Linked DNA regions of Homo sapiens: all the other regions are linked to region 3. Evidence: fine-mapped expression QTL. A gene starts in region 3. Each other region holds a variant in brackets. All regions are shown on one strand. Distances are between the middles of the regions.

What was found. PIP is the estimated chance that this variant, and not a neighbour inherited with it, causes the effect.
Region 1: its variant is the best candidate, but not a certain one, in a credible set for the expression of VCAN in whole blood (INTERVAL, PIP 0.84).
Region 2: its variant is the best candidate, but not a certain one, in a credible set for the expression of VCAN in whole blood (TOPMed, PIP 0.79).

Annotation. Positions count from the first base shown.
Region 1 is chr5:83,580,181-83,584,538 of GRCh38, reverse strand. It overlaps VCAN (versican), which reads right to left. Exons shown (of 15, transcript NM_004385.5): 15 at 2,237-4,232. The coding sequence ends at 4,105. Among named protein-coding and RNA genes, the nearest start is that of VCAN-AS1, 20 kb to the right of the region's middle. The variant AG/G (reference allele first, on the strand shown) is at 2,563.
Region 2 is chr5:83,325,682-83,330,039 of GRCh38, reverse strand. The region is part of intron 7 of XRCC4 (X-ray repair cross complementing 4); the gene reads right to left. Among named protein-coding and RNA genes, the nearest start is that of VCAN, 140 kb to the left of the region's middle. The variant A/C (reference allele first, on the strand shown) is at 2,365.
Region 3 is chr5:83,470,108-83,474,107 of GRCh38, reverse strand. VCAN (versican) reads right to left here and starts at 2,364. Exons shown (of 15, transcript NM_004385.5): 1 at 2,085-2,364. RefSeq lists an enhancer at 1,063-1,935.

The DNA of each region.
Region 1 (4,358 bases), 110 kb before region 3:
AATTAGTCCAACGAAAACAAAAATATAAAATTTTTGACTCTTAATAAAAGACTACTTTTAAAAGAATGATGTAAGAGGTCAAACCACTATGATATTTAGATTCCACTGAATATATCCTGAAAGTGATATTACATGCTTATTTTAGAATGACAATATTTAAAATAGGTCAAAAATTACATCCTCTATAGTTGTATAACTTTATGATGAAAAAAAATTTTGTTGACAACTTAAAATGTGAGAGGTACATAGTTTTTAAAATTTTTAAATAAATACTATCAAAAATAATTTAAGACTTACTGCCTAAGGCAGTAAACTTTTAATCTTCAACAGGGATCATTTGATGGACTCAGACAGAACTCTGAATTAAATTCCAATTAAAACCCAGGCTTTGCTTATTCTGTAAACACCTCAACAAAACCATTCTTGTTCTATTTTGGCATTTGCTCTTTCTTGTCCAGCTGGGATCTAAACATACAGAAATGAGTAATAATGGGAAAAGATTATACAATCTTGAATGACTCACTCAAGGACCTTTATAAATGTTCTGTTTAGACTTGTTTCAGAAAAGAATCATTTGGATGAATTCTGATTTGTTTAGAGAAAATGCAAGTTGCAATACAGTAAAAAGAAAGATGCACCAATATCAGTGCTAACATATCACTGCCAACCTTTTTTTTTTCAGAAACAATTTCACTGCATTTCTAATATTAAGAAACATAAAAGGAAACACTTTACAAATGTTGTATTCATCACTGAGTCTTTAGCCACTTGATAATAACATCTTTTTCCCTTATCTAGAATATATTCTCTCATAGATCCTTTTCATGGGAAATAGTCATGCACAAAATTAACCCGGAACTTTTTTACAACTACTTTATTTTTTTCTGTTTATTTGCAAACTCTGTGAGTTTATTGTACATGATATATGATTTCCGGGCAAATAGCTTGTGGCTAATTCAGTTCCTACTCTTGGTACTTTATTGAAAATTTACTTAAGATCAGCAAAGGTCTACTTACCATCACATTAAAATGATGCACCTCTCCCTATACAATCTCTCTTACCTCTTTAGTAATACAGCTACCCTGGAAGACCACCTCTTCTTAAATAGCCCCCAACGCAGGGGCACATTCTTCCCTCTGATATGCCACTTAACCTTTAAAAATGGACAAAGAACCACTTCTTGCTGCCTTTGACTAGTGTAAGTCTTTTTTAATGTCTCACTCTGTCCCAGTATTCTGTTCATCCCACAGATTCTGTTATTTGTACCTAGATCCACCAATAATCTCAGAAGGCTATATATGCACAATTATTATAAATTCTTATATATTCCCTTGGATCATATTTAAATTCTATGTAAAAGATATGACAGAGTGCACACTAAAAGGACAAGCTCAGAAAGGAAAATAATCTCTTCTCTTCCACACTTATTCATGCCAAACTCCCTGTATATTTTTGACATTTCTAGAAAGAACCTTAAAATAATTTTCAGCTCACCTTTGACCTTTATATCTTTGATATAACTTTGGAGCATAAAATGTATTGGTTCTTCCAGATTATCAATAAAGATACTGAATAGAATGGGTTCTATGATAATTTCCATGGGATGCAGCCAGTATAAAAACTTTATGTGGGCAGAAACCTGTCTACCGCATCCACTGGTGAATCTTCAGAGCCTATTACGGTGCCTGGCACACATTAAATCCTTAAATAATGAATGAATGAAAACTGAAGGAACGGATGGATATCTGAATGGGTGATAACCTCTTAAATGCATAACAATCAGGGATATAATATTTTACATTTTTCTTGGAAATTCTGTGTGGGCTGTAGGGATTACCTGCTTCTGCTACACACTAACTGCATGATTTTGGACAAATAACGAGCCCTCTATGCCCGATCCCTTATCAGTCAGTAATGATGACCCCTGTTTCATAAGCTTGTTATGATATATTACATGTAAAATACTTGCCTTGGTTCATAGGAAGATTTCTGTGATGTGAGCTATCACTTTTCCCATTGCATAGTTTCCATATTTGAAATTAATACATAGTATTCAGATGAAAACATTATCAGAATTATTATCGCAACTTTTACGGGTAAATATATAATCATTTCTTTGCTTGCCACAAAATCATTTCATCCAGGTTAGAAGCTTGCTCTCCATGATGGAACCAGAATGTAAAAATGTTGGTGCACATAAGGATTTAAAGTTGTAAATAACCAGACCAGTCACAGTGTAGTAAAAGAAGGATTTTAGGTTTCTTTGGTGAAACAAAAGCAGATATAAAAAGTTACAAAGATTTTAGATTTTCATTCACAAAAAAAGTCATTCACATTTTACACTATACACGTTATGATATAAATACAGGAAAGTATTATGTGCATTGTAAAGAGAAAGGAAAAATAGAAACCTACTAGATCAACACAGTGTTGTTCTGTGCTCTAAAATACCTAAAGGTGGATTACATTTAATGCAACAACCAAGGGAACCTGCTTAAACATACTGTGTATTATTGTAGCTAGAGTCATTCCTTCTAAGCCAAAGGAGGTTTTATAAAAAA[AG/G]AATCAATATTGGGCCAATCCCTTTGTGCCCTTTTTCTCTTTTTCTATGTGCATTTTATTTTTTGTCTACTCTTCTTCAAGTTGCTCTAAACTGAAATTAGGGAAGGAGTCTTACTTTCCATTACAGGTTTTTCTTTAAACATTAAATTAAGTGGATAAGGATTCAAAGTCATCTTCAGCAGTCACTTTATTCAAATAATGGGGAGAAAACAGAGTGGGAAGAGATGGGGAGAAATGTCAACACATACACTCCACCTAACAGGAAGAAATGCCCACACTATTTCTATATATTCGCTCATTTCTTAGAATGGGCAAACACCTTTTGCTAAAAGCTATATACTTTTCCACTCTTTTCATAATAAACACTTGATGCATTCTATCCGTCACATTATTTAATCAGGGACAAAGTACCTATATTATATGATTCCAAATTGTGTGAGGAAAGTAAAAGGCTAACACTGAAAAATAACTAGCATACTATGTTCATTTTCAGGTCTTAGGGAAAATAACATCCAATAAATTAAATCAGTATGGCTTACTTCATTTATTTATGTATGCTTCACAGCTGCAGCATTCATACATGAACATTCAAAACTTTATAAAAGATTAAAATGGTTATATATACAAAATTTCTTTTTTTTTTTTTTTTTTTTTTTTTGCATGTGTTTTAACAATCCCCCACCCTCCAGAGCCCTAGGTCTATATCCGTATGAAATGCATTGATCGGTAACCTTATGAGTTAGTGTTATGAAAGCCATTAAAAAGTAGACCTGGTTGAGTTAATTATTAGCACTTTGACCCCTAAAAAATGTTCCTGGTTACAGAAAAGTCCTCCATTCAGGCCTTTCTTGTAAGTGAAGAAAAAGGAATGCAGCAAAGAAGAGTTCGACATTGGAGTCCTTAGTTCCATCAGGATCCCATTCGCAGCCTTTAGCATCATGTAGAAGCAAACTGCACCTATGGCTGAGATAGGTGCAATGACCTACAAGATTTTGTGTTTTCTAGCTGTCCAGGAAAAGCCATCTTCAGTCTTGCTGACAGTCAAAGAGCAAGTGAAACCATTTCCAGCCTAAACTACATAAAAGCAGCCGAACCAATGATTAAAGACCTCTAAGGCTCCATAATCATCATTAAATATGCCCAAACTCATTGTGACTTTTTATTTTATATACAGGATTAAAATCAACATTAAATCATCTTATTTACATGGCCATCGGTGCTGAAATTGAGCATTTTAAATAGTACAGTAGGCTGGTATACATTAGGAAATGGACTGCACTGGAGGCAAATAGAAAACTAAAGAAATTAGATAGGCTGGAAATGCTTACTTTCTGCTCTCATTTTCTTTCATTTTGTCTGCTGTCTTTTTGAATGCCAATACTTTCATTTAAAATGTTTTGGGAGCACGGCAACCCAAAATGACTGAACGGTGGTCCAAAAATCCAAACCAACTGATAATTACTTCTCGAGGTGATAGGAAAGGCACAGGAAGTTAGGACTTTGGCTGAAATGATGAAAACACATGTTCGCCATTTTAGGGATCAGCGCCTCGACTCCTGCCACCTCCGGCTCCAACGATGATCATGTTTGGATGTATTTATTGAATTGTCCTTTGCTGATGAGGAATTTTTAAAGTATTTCATAGAATAAGTCCTTTGGTATGCAGATGCTACATGGAAGGAAAGAAAGAAAAAAAGAAAACACACAATATTACTTGCTCCATACCCTAAACTGCCGATACCACAGCCGTAAAATGAAGGTGTCTAGTAGTTGTTATAGCACGGTAGTCCATTCT
Region 2 (4,358 bases), 140 kb after region 3:
GTTACTTCTGAATAGTTTTGTTATCTGGTGACCATAAATGTCCTTCTAAACATTCTCCTACTTAAGCACAATACAACCGTCAAAACAGAAAATTAACATCGATACATTGCTGCCATCTAATTTTCAACCTCCATTCAGTTTCCACTAATGTCCTTTACCTCAAAATGTCCCAAATCACACAATACTTTAGCAGTTACATCACTTTAGGCTTCTTCCTTAGTTCCTCAGTCATTTCTTGAGGTACTTCTGATGATAATTGGCCAGTTAATTTAATGGAATGTACTTAATTTGAGTTTGTTTGAGATTTCCTCATGCTTTGATTAAAGTTGTGCACCTTTGGTAGGACTATTACAGAAGTGCTGCTGTGTTCCTATTGCATTTGATCAAGGTGGTGTATGGTTTCAATTTGTACCATTACTGATGATGTTGATTTTGATCACAAGGTTACCATGCTTTTCTACTGAAAAGTTTCTCTTGTACCCTTTAAAATTAATAAGTGTTTTATGGAGAAGTAATGATGTCGGCCATATTTTTATATGTTTCAAAACTATTTGTGCTTTTCCTTTTGGGATTGTCTGATTAAGTCTCTGGCCCATTTTACTATTGTTTTCTTGGCTTTTATTTAATCGACTTAGAGAATACAAATTCTTTGTCAGCTATATGGGTTACAAATATTTTCTCTCACTGCATGGGTTGTCATTTTCTTTATAATGTTCTTTGATGTACCAACACTTCTTATTTTAATGTGGTCAAATTTATACATTTTTCTTTTGTGGGGTTGCACTCTTTCAGCCTTATTTAAGAATATGTTCTCTTAAGACGTTAAAAATATTCTCCTGTGTTTTCTTCCAAAAGTGTTAAACTATTGCCTTTTATATTCACATTTTAAATTCATTTGAAATTTGTTTTCATGTAGGTGTGAGGAGGGGATCAAATTTCATTATTTTTTAAATAAAAAATCAACTTGCTGGGTGCAGTGGCACATGTCTGCAGTCCCAGCTAATAAGGAGGCTTAAGTGGGAGAATTGCTTGAGGCTAGGAGTTGTTGGAGTCCAGTCTGGGCAACATAATGAGACCCTACCTCTGAAAGAAAAATTTAAAAAATTAAAAATAAAAAACTCAATTGTCATAATATTTTTTATTATATAGTTGATTCCTTCTCTAGTGAATTTTATTGTTACTTTTGCCATATGCCAAATTTGTATATATGCATGAGTATCTTGCTCCATTCTTTCCTTTATCTGTTGTCTATCCCAGTGCTAATATCTTGCTTTACTATTATTCCTATATAATAAGTCATGATTCTGGTAGATAAAGTTTCCCCACTTTATTCTTCTTCAGAATTGCTTTGGTTATTCTTAGCCTTTTGTTCTTCTATGTAAATTTCAGAAACAGCTTGCCAAAATCTTGTTAGAATTTTGATGACAAATAAGTGAAACTACAAATAATGGAGAAAGAATAAAAATCTTTAAGATACTGAATATTCCTGTCCTTTAAATTTTACAATTTGCTCCATCTTTTTATTATTTAATCCTTGTATATTTTGAAAGTATTTTCTAACTCTGATGCTGATGTATAGAAATGCAGTAATTTTTGCATTTTTGTCATGTATCAAGCCACTTTGCTAAATATTCTTATTAATTCAAAGTATTTACCTATAGATTCTTTTGAATTTTCTATGTAGTCAATAATATGCACTATGAATATTGATATGGTTTGGCTGTGTCCCCATCCAAATCTCAACTTGAATTGTATCTCCCTGAATTCCCACGTGTTGTGGGAGGGACCCAGGGAGAGGTAATTGAATCATGGGGGCCAGTCTTTCCCATGCTATTCTCCTGATAGTTAATAAGTCTCACAAGATCTGATGGGTTTATCAGGGGTTTCCGCTTTTGCTTCTTCCTCATTTTCTCTTGCTGCTGCCATGTAAGAAGTGCCTTTTGCCTCCCGCCATGATTCTGAGGCCTCCCAGCCATGTGGACCTGTAAGTCCAATTAAACCTCTTTTTCTTCCCAATCTCAGGCATGTCTTTATCAGCAGCATGAAAACGGACTAATAGAAATATTGAAAAGTTTCTTTCTTTTCAAGACTTATATATTTTATTTCTTTTTGTGCTATGCATGCACTGGCTAGGACCTCCAATACAGTATGGAATGGAAGTAGTGATCATGGGCATCTTGTTGAGAAGAAGTGTTTCTATTTCTTGTGTTTGTGTGTTGTATACATGAGAAGATTCTCATAAATCCTAGCTTGCAAAGACATTTTGTTATGTCTGAGTGCTGAATTTTATTAAACTTCTTTGCACTAATTGAGGTTTTACTCCTTTAATCATCATGGTATATTTAGTCCTTCCTGAAATAAATT[A/C]AACTTTTTCATCATATATTTTTCAGCTTTATTGATAACTGATTGACAAATAATTGTATATATTTATGGTATACAATTTGAAAATTTTATATACATATACAATATGAAATAACCACAACAATCAAGCTAATTAACATAACTGTCACCCCATATAGTTACCTTTTTGTATAAGAATACATAAAATAACAGCTAAATTTAATAATAATGAAATTATTACTAGTGAACCATTTTATAAGGTGAATGAATAGATGAACAAACTGTGGTACATCCCCACATGGACTACTACTCATAAAAAAGCAATGATACATACTGATATATTTCTACATGGAAAAATCTCAAGGCATTATGCTACATGAAAGAAGCCAGACTCAAGATGGCTATATACTGTAGGATTTTATACAGCATTCTGGAAAAGGCAAGACTCTTGAGATAGAAATCAGGTCAGCAGTTGCCAGGGCTGGGTGTGGGGAAAGAGGATTGACTACAAATAATTATAAGGAAACTTAGGATGATGGAAATGTTCCCAGCCTGACTATATAAATTTGTCAAAATTCACAGAACTATACACCTAAGAAGCATGAATTTTACTTTATGTTAATTACACTTCAATAAGCAAAACAAACAAGTTTAAAAATATAGATAGAAATATTTCCCCTGAAGAGCATTTTCTAGCAATTCAATATTCATGATGAGCTTTTATCTCTGATTAACGTGCAGGTGTATGCCATTAGGTGTAAAAAAGCAATTTTTTTAAAAACAGCGTATTGTTCATTGTGAAATATATATTCACGGAACAGCAATAAGAATTCCTTAGCAATCCTCTGGGAATGGGGACAAGCAATTGAGGAAGGCAGTTTGCTAGTGTCAAATTGTCAAGGGATGCTTAATATGCTTCTTTAGATTTTCTACTTCTCTTAACAATCTTTAAGAAATAGATTACAAGCTGCTTTCTGGCACGACTTGGTTGCTATAAGAATACAAGAAATGTAACTGTACATTACAAAAAACTCACATTATGCAATGTCAAAATTACACTTGTAAAAGCAAAACTTCAAGAAATAAACCATATTGTAGTTCAAAGCCTGGAAAATGTCATGTTAGTAGAATATATAGATCCCAAACAAATTTTCCCATAAAGAATATTAAATGCTATATGGCTCAAGCTTGGTTAGAAGGATTTTAAAATTTCTTTTAATCATGGTTAAAAAATTAGGGACATCATGTTACAAACTCTCAATAAACTAGGTATTGAAAAACTCTTAAGTAAACTAGGCACTTAAATGTAAAACCCAAAAACTATAAAAATCCTAGAAGAAAATGTAGGCAATACAATTCAGGACATAGCAACAGACAAAGATTTCATGACAAAGACTCCAAAAGCAATTGCAACAAAAGCAAAAATTGACAAACGGGGTCTACTTAAACTAAAGAGCTTTTGCACAGCAAAAGAAACTATCGTTGGAGTTAGCAGAAAACCTACAGAATGGGTGAAAATTTTTGCTATCTATCCATTTGACAAAGGTCTAATATCCAGAGTCTACAAGGAACTTAAACACATTTACAGGGAAGAAACAAACAAGCCCATTAAAAACTGGGCAAAGGACATGAGCAGATACTTCTCAAAAGAAGACATAAGTGCAGCCAACTAACATATGAGATACCATCTCATGCTAGTCAGAATGGCTATTAAAAAGTCAAAAAACAACAGATGCTGGTGAGGATGCAAAGAAAAAGGAATGCTTTTACACTGTTAGTGGGAGTGTAAATTCGCTCAACCACTGTGGAAAACAGTGTGGTGACTCCTTAAAGACCTAGAACCGGAAATACCATCGGACCCAGCAATCCCATTACTGTATATATATCTAAAGAAATAGAATAATTCTATTATAAAGATACATGCATGCATATGTTCATTGCAGCACTATTCACAATAGCAAAGACATGGAATCAACCTAAATGCTCATCAATGATAGACTGGAAAAAGAAAATATGTA
Region 3 (4,000 bases):
GTTGGGTTCAAGTGGTCATGGGTTTTGAGAGCACGGTATGTGTATTATCTTTCTTAAAGACGCCCAGGGTGGCGCGTCTAGACCTCCGAAACCTGGCTCCACCCTGGCCATGTGCGTTCGTCCACTAAGCGGCGAACTGGACCCAGGGCGCCGCGTGCGTTCCAGCCGACTCGCGAGAAGGCATCTCTGCACTTTGCACAGACCAAGACCTTTTTTCAGGGTCCTCCAAACTCCTAGATGTACGCCGCAGATTGTGGAGTGCAAAATGAATGACTTAAGGGAAAACTAGGGCCTTCCATCCTTGAACACAAGGTTGTGAAAGATGCTCGCTTGGTCTGGGGGGCTTGTTTTTCTCCGCCTGTGCGGGACTTCTCCATCAGGGGGCGCCCACACCCGCCGCAAAACTCCCAATTCCTAGACATCTAGGTTCTGCAAGTCTTGTGAGCTGAACTGGGGGCAGATCCGAAGGAGCGCACCGCCTCCCTCGCTCCTCCCTCCCTGCTGCCTTGGAGCACGGGAAAGGCAGGGATTTCACACTAGCCATTCATTTGTCAGCTGTGGGGGAGGGGACGCAGAAGCTAGAGAGAGAGAACAGAGGCTGGGAGAGGGGAAGGGAGGCAGAGAAGATGGAGACAGAGGGAGACACAAAGATGAGGAACGCGACCCAGAGAGACTCTGCCGCGGGTGTGCGCGCGGCAGGACAACTCTCCAGGCGCCGTGTAGATTTCTCCCCCTTCCCGCAGCATCTCCCAGGGACATGCAGGACTTGCCGAGACGCAGTTGGATTGGAGAGCAAATAGTTTAGGCTATGACACTATTTTTCTACCCCGCTCTCCTCTGCCTAACACCCAGACCGCTCCACGCCCAGTGACACAGACCGCGGGCCAGAACAACCCGGATGCCCTAGGTCTGCACGCACCAGGGATGTCGCCCTACAGCGCCCACGCCTCTGCAGGACGGTGGGGCGCTCCAGCCGAGGACGTCCCCCGGGGCTCCCGGCACACGCGCGCGCCGCTGCCGCTAGACCTGCCAGTAAAGTTGCTCAACTAGAGCGGAGAACTAGGAGAGGGTGGGGAATATGTAAGGAAACGGAGGACTCCTGTAGTCTGGGCGAGAGGACTGACCCAGAGGCCCCTGATTCGGGTCCCCGAGCCACCTTTGTCTGCAGTGCGCTCTGGGTGCCGGTTTGCTTGTTGAGATGGGAGCGACAGACCCTATTTCACTCTTCAGGGTGAGAAAAATTGTTGCACATCCCTGCCGATTCAGAACAGGCTTTTCCCGCCCAGGGGCCTCCCAGACCTCCGCGGGGCTCCAACAACCCCACCCCCCATCCTCTGCTCCTTCCCTGCTGGCCCCTTCGCACCGCGTGCAGGACAAAAGAACCCAGGGGCGCCGGGAGAGAACCGTGACAGTCCCCAAGTCGTCAAAGAGACACGGCGGGGATCCTGCACCTCCCCCGGCCGGACCTCCTCCCAGACTGCCTGCGGTCTGAAGGGGTCAGGTCCGCGCAAGGTCCCAGGCTGCTTGGGCGCCGGGTCGCACTGTCAGGAGCTGCCCGGGAGTGGCTTTCCAGGAACACCAGGCACTGACCACACACCAGGGGCTGGGAAACCAGGTGGCCTGCACCAAGGCGGCTTCGGGGACTTGTCTGTGGCAAGTCTTGGTAGTCCCCATTCAAACTTTTGCCTCGAGCGTGTTAAGAACAACAACAACAAAAAAATCAAAGTGCCAAAGGTCCCTCTCTTCTCTCCAGCTCAAGAACCCACCACTTTTCTATGATTTCTTTACAATTTATTCCCTCCCTTCCCCCAATTCCGTTAGTCATTTTACCCCCCACCCCACCCTGGGTTTCTTTTGTCTGAATCTTTTTCAACACCAAGGTCCCTCTGTATGCCTCTCCCCAAAAGCCCTTATGAAAGTTACCTGCATTTTTTAAGTGCCTACATTTTCTTAACTTCGCCTTACAGCTCTTTGCCTTAATTAAAGCCTTCTACCAATTGCTTCTTTTTTCTAAGCTCGCGGGTTTTTTTCTATAAGTTTTTTGTTTTTGTTTTTTAAGGGGGGAACAAAAGAAACGTGATTACCTTGGAAGGCGGCTTATTGCAGTTTGGGGGGAAAATTCACTGCAGCGCTGCGCGACTGGGTTCGGCGTTGCCCAGGCGGGTCACATAGGAAGCGTGGTGGCCCGGGGAAGGATGCGGAGGGTGCGGGACGGTGCTGGAAGATGCGGGAGGATGCGGGGCTGGCCGAAGATCTTGGTCCCAGCTCCTGTCCACAACACCTAATGTTCTCGGCTGTTGCGTCCGCACGCCTGGAGTTCTTCCCCAGAAAGGCTCGGGGCAGCTCGCCTGCAAGTTCAAATGCGGGTTGTGACACCCATCATCATTATATCACTGTACCGTCAGAGCCGAGGAGGAGACTCAGCGAGAAGAAGGAGGAGGGAGAGGAGGAGGGTTCATTCACAGGCTCCAAAAGCGCTCCGCAGCTTCAGCCACTCCTAAGAGTCCAGGCTTGGAAAGCAGGCGGAGGGGCGGAAAGGCAGCTCCCCGCGCCTGCGGTAGGGACCGCCTGCCTCCCTCCCCAGGCACTCCCACCTCTTGGCGTTTCTTCCTGACAAGAAGTACCAATCGGCTTGGGGACAGCAGCGCTCCCCATTCAGGGACTCACTCAGTAACATCGCTCTGCTCGCGGAAACCACTGCCCTCCCACTCCTTCCCCACCCCCATTTCCCCGCCCCCCGTGCAGCTAGTTCTGGGTTAGGGGAAAGGAGCCCCCAGGCTCTTAGGGGGCAGGCCAGCAATAGACAATTGAGTACGATCACTTCTTCTCGGGAGCACACAAAACTGTAAAATCAGCAAAGAACTTGGTTACAGCGTGTTTACGCGCCCACAGAGCTTGCCTGTCCCATCAAAGGGAAGTGTCAGGCTCAAGGCTCCTGCCAACCTGAAAGAGACACTGAGAAAACGAGATCCTTCGGGGACCTAGAGGGAAAGTGTAAGAATTCCCCACTGCACTCCCAGGGAACTGCCCAATGGGGAGCCCGGCTTCAAAAGACCCTGGTAATAAAAGGCTGGACAGGAAATTCCCCCAGGCAAATCCCTTGTCGGATTCAAAGAGAATACTTTTCCTCTGCCACAAATCTCTCCCCACATAAGTCTAGATTCTGCTTTCTTCGTTCTTCCTTTCCTTCAGTCTTTCCAAGTATCTCTGAGTAGAATATTTGATAATTTTCCTGAGTAACAGGGACTTCTTGGAAGTATCAATCACCTTTCATGCTTTCCGGAAATAAGACCATAATCTTTCATGCGTATATGCGATTTTTTTTCTTCAGTCAGGCCCACCCCACTGTGTAAACAGCATCAACACATGGAAGAGTCCCCTGCATTGTGTTACAAAAGATTTCCAATAGGACCTTACAGAGAAAAGGGTCAAACAGTTGACACAAAGGATTTCTGTCCCCTTAGAAAAGAGGGACTTTGGATTTTCCTTTTCTTTGAAGTCAAGTATGAGTTTATACAATAGGAACAAAATAAATCCAAGGTGCACATCAGTATAACACTAGGGATACTAGAATGGATGGCAAACTTTTCCTTCTACACAAATATGAAAGTATCCTCACAACTCTTCTCTCTGAAGCCTCTACTTAGAAAATTATATTAAACATAGGACCTCAAAACAGTAGTGATTAAAGATGAAAGCCAATTTTTCCTCTCAACTTCTTTGATTAGTTTGGTTTAAACTTATGCTTTAAAACTTTTAGTAACTTAGACTCCTGTACATGCGCATTTATAAGATTTCTTTTATATTTTGTAATTTGTAGGCATTCAGCATGGTCATTGATTTTAAGTGATAAACAGGTAGAAGACTTGTCAGGATAATTTCAGTTCTCACCATGTGCATCTTTCATTTCTTTTGTTATTTATCAGCCCTCTGCAGTAATATAACTGTCAGTTACATCATTTGGAAATCAATGTGTTTTTGCAGTGAATTATTTATTCTT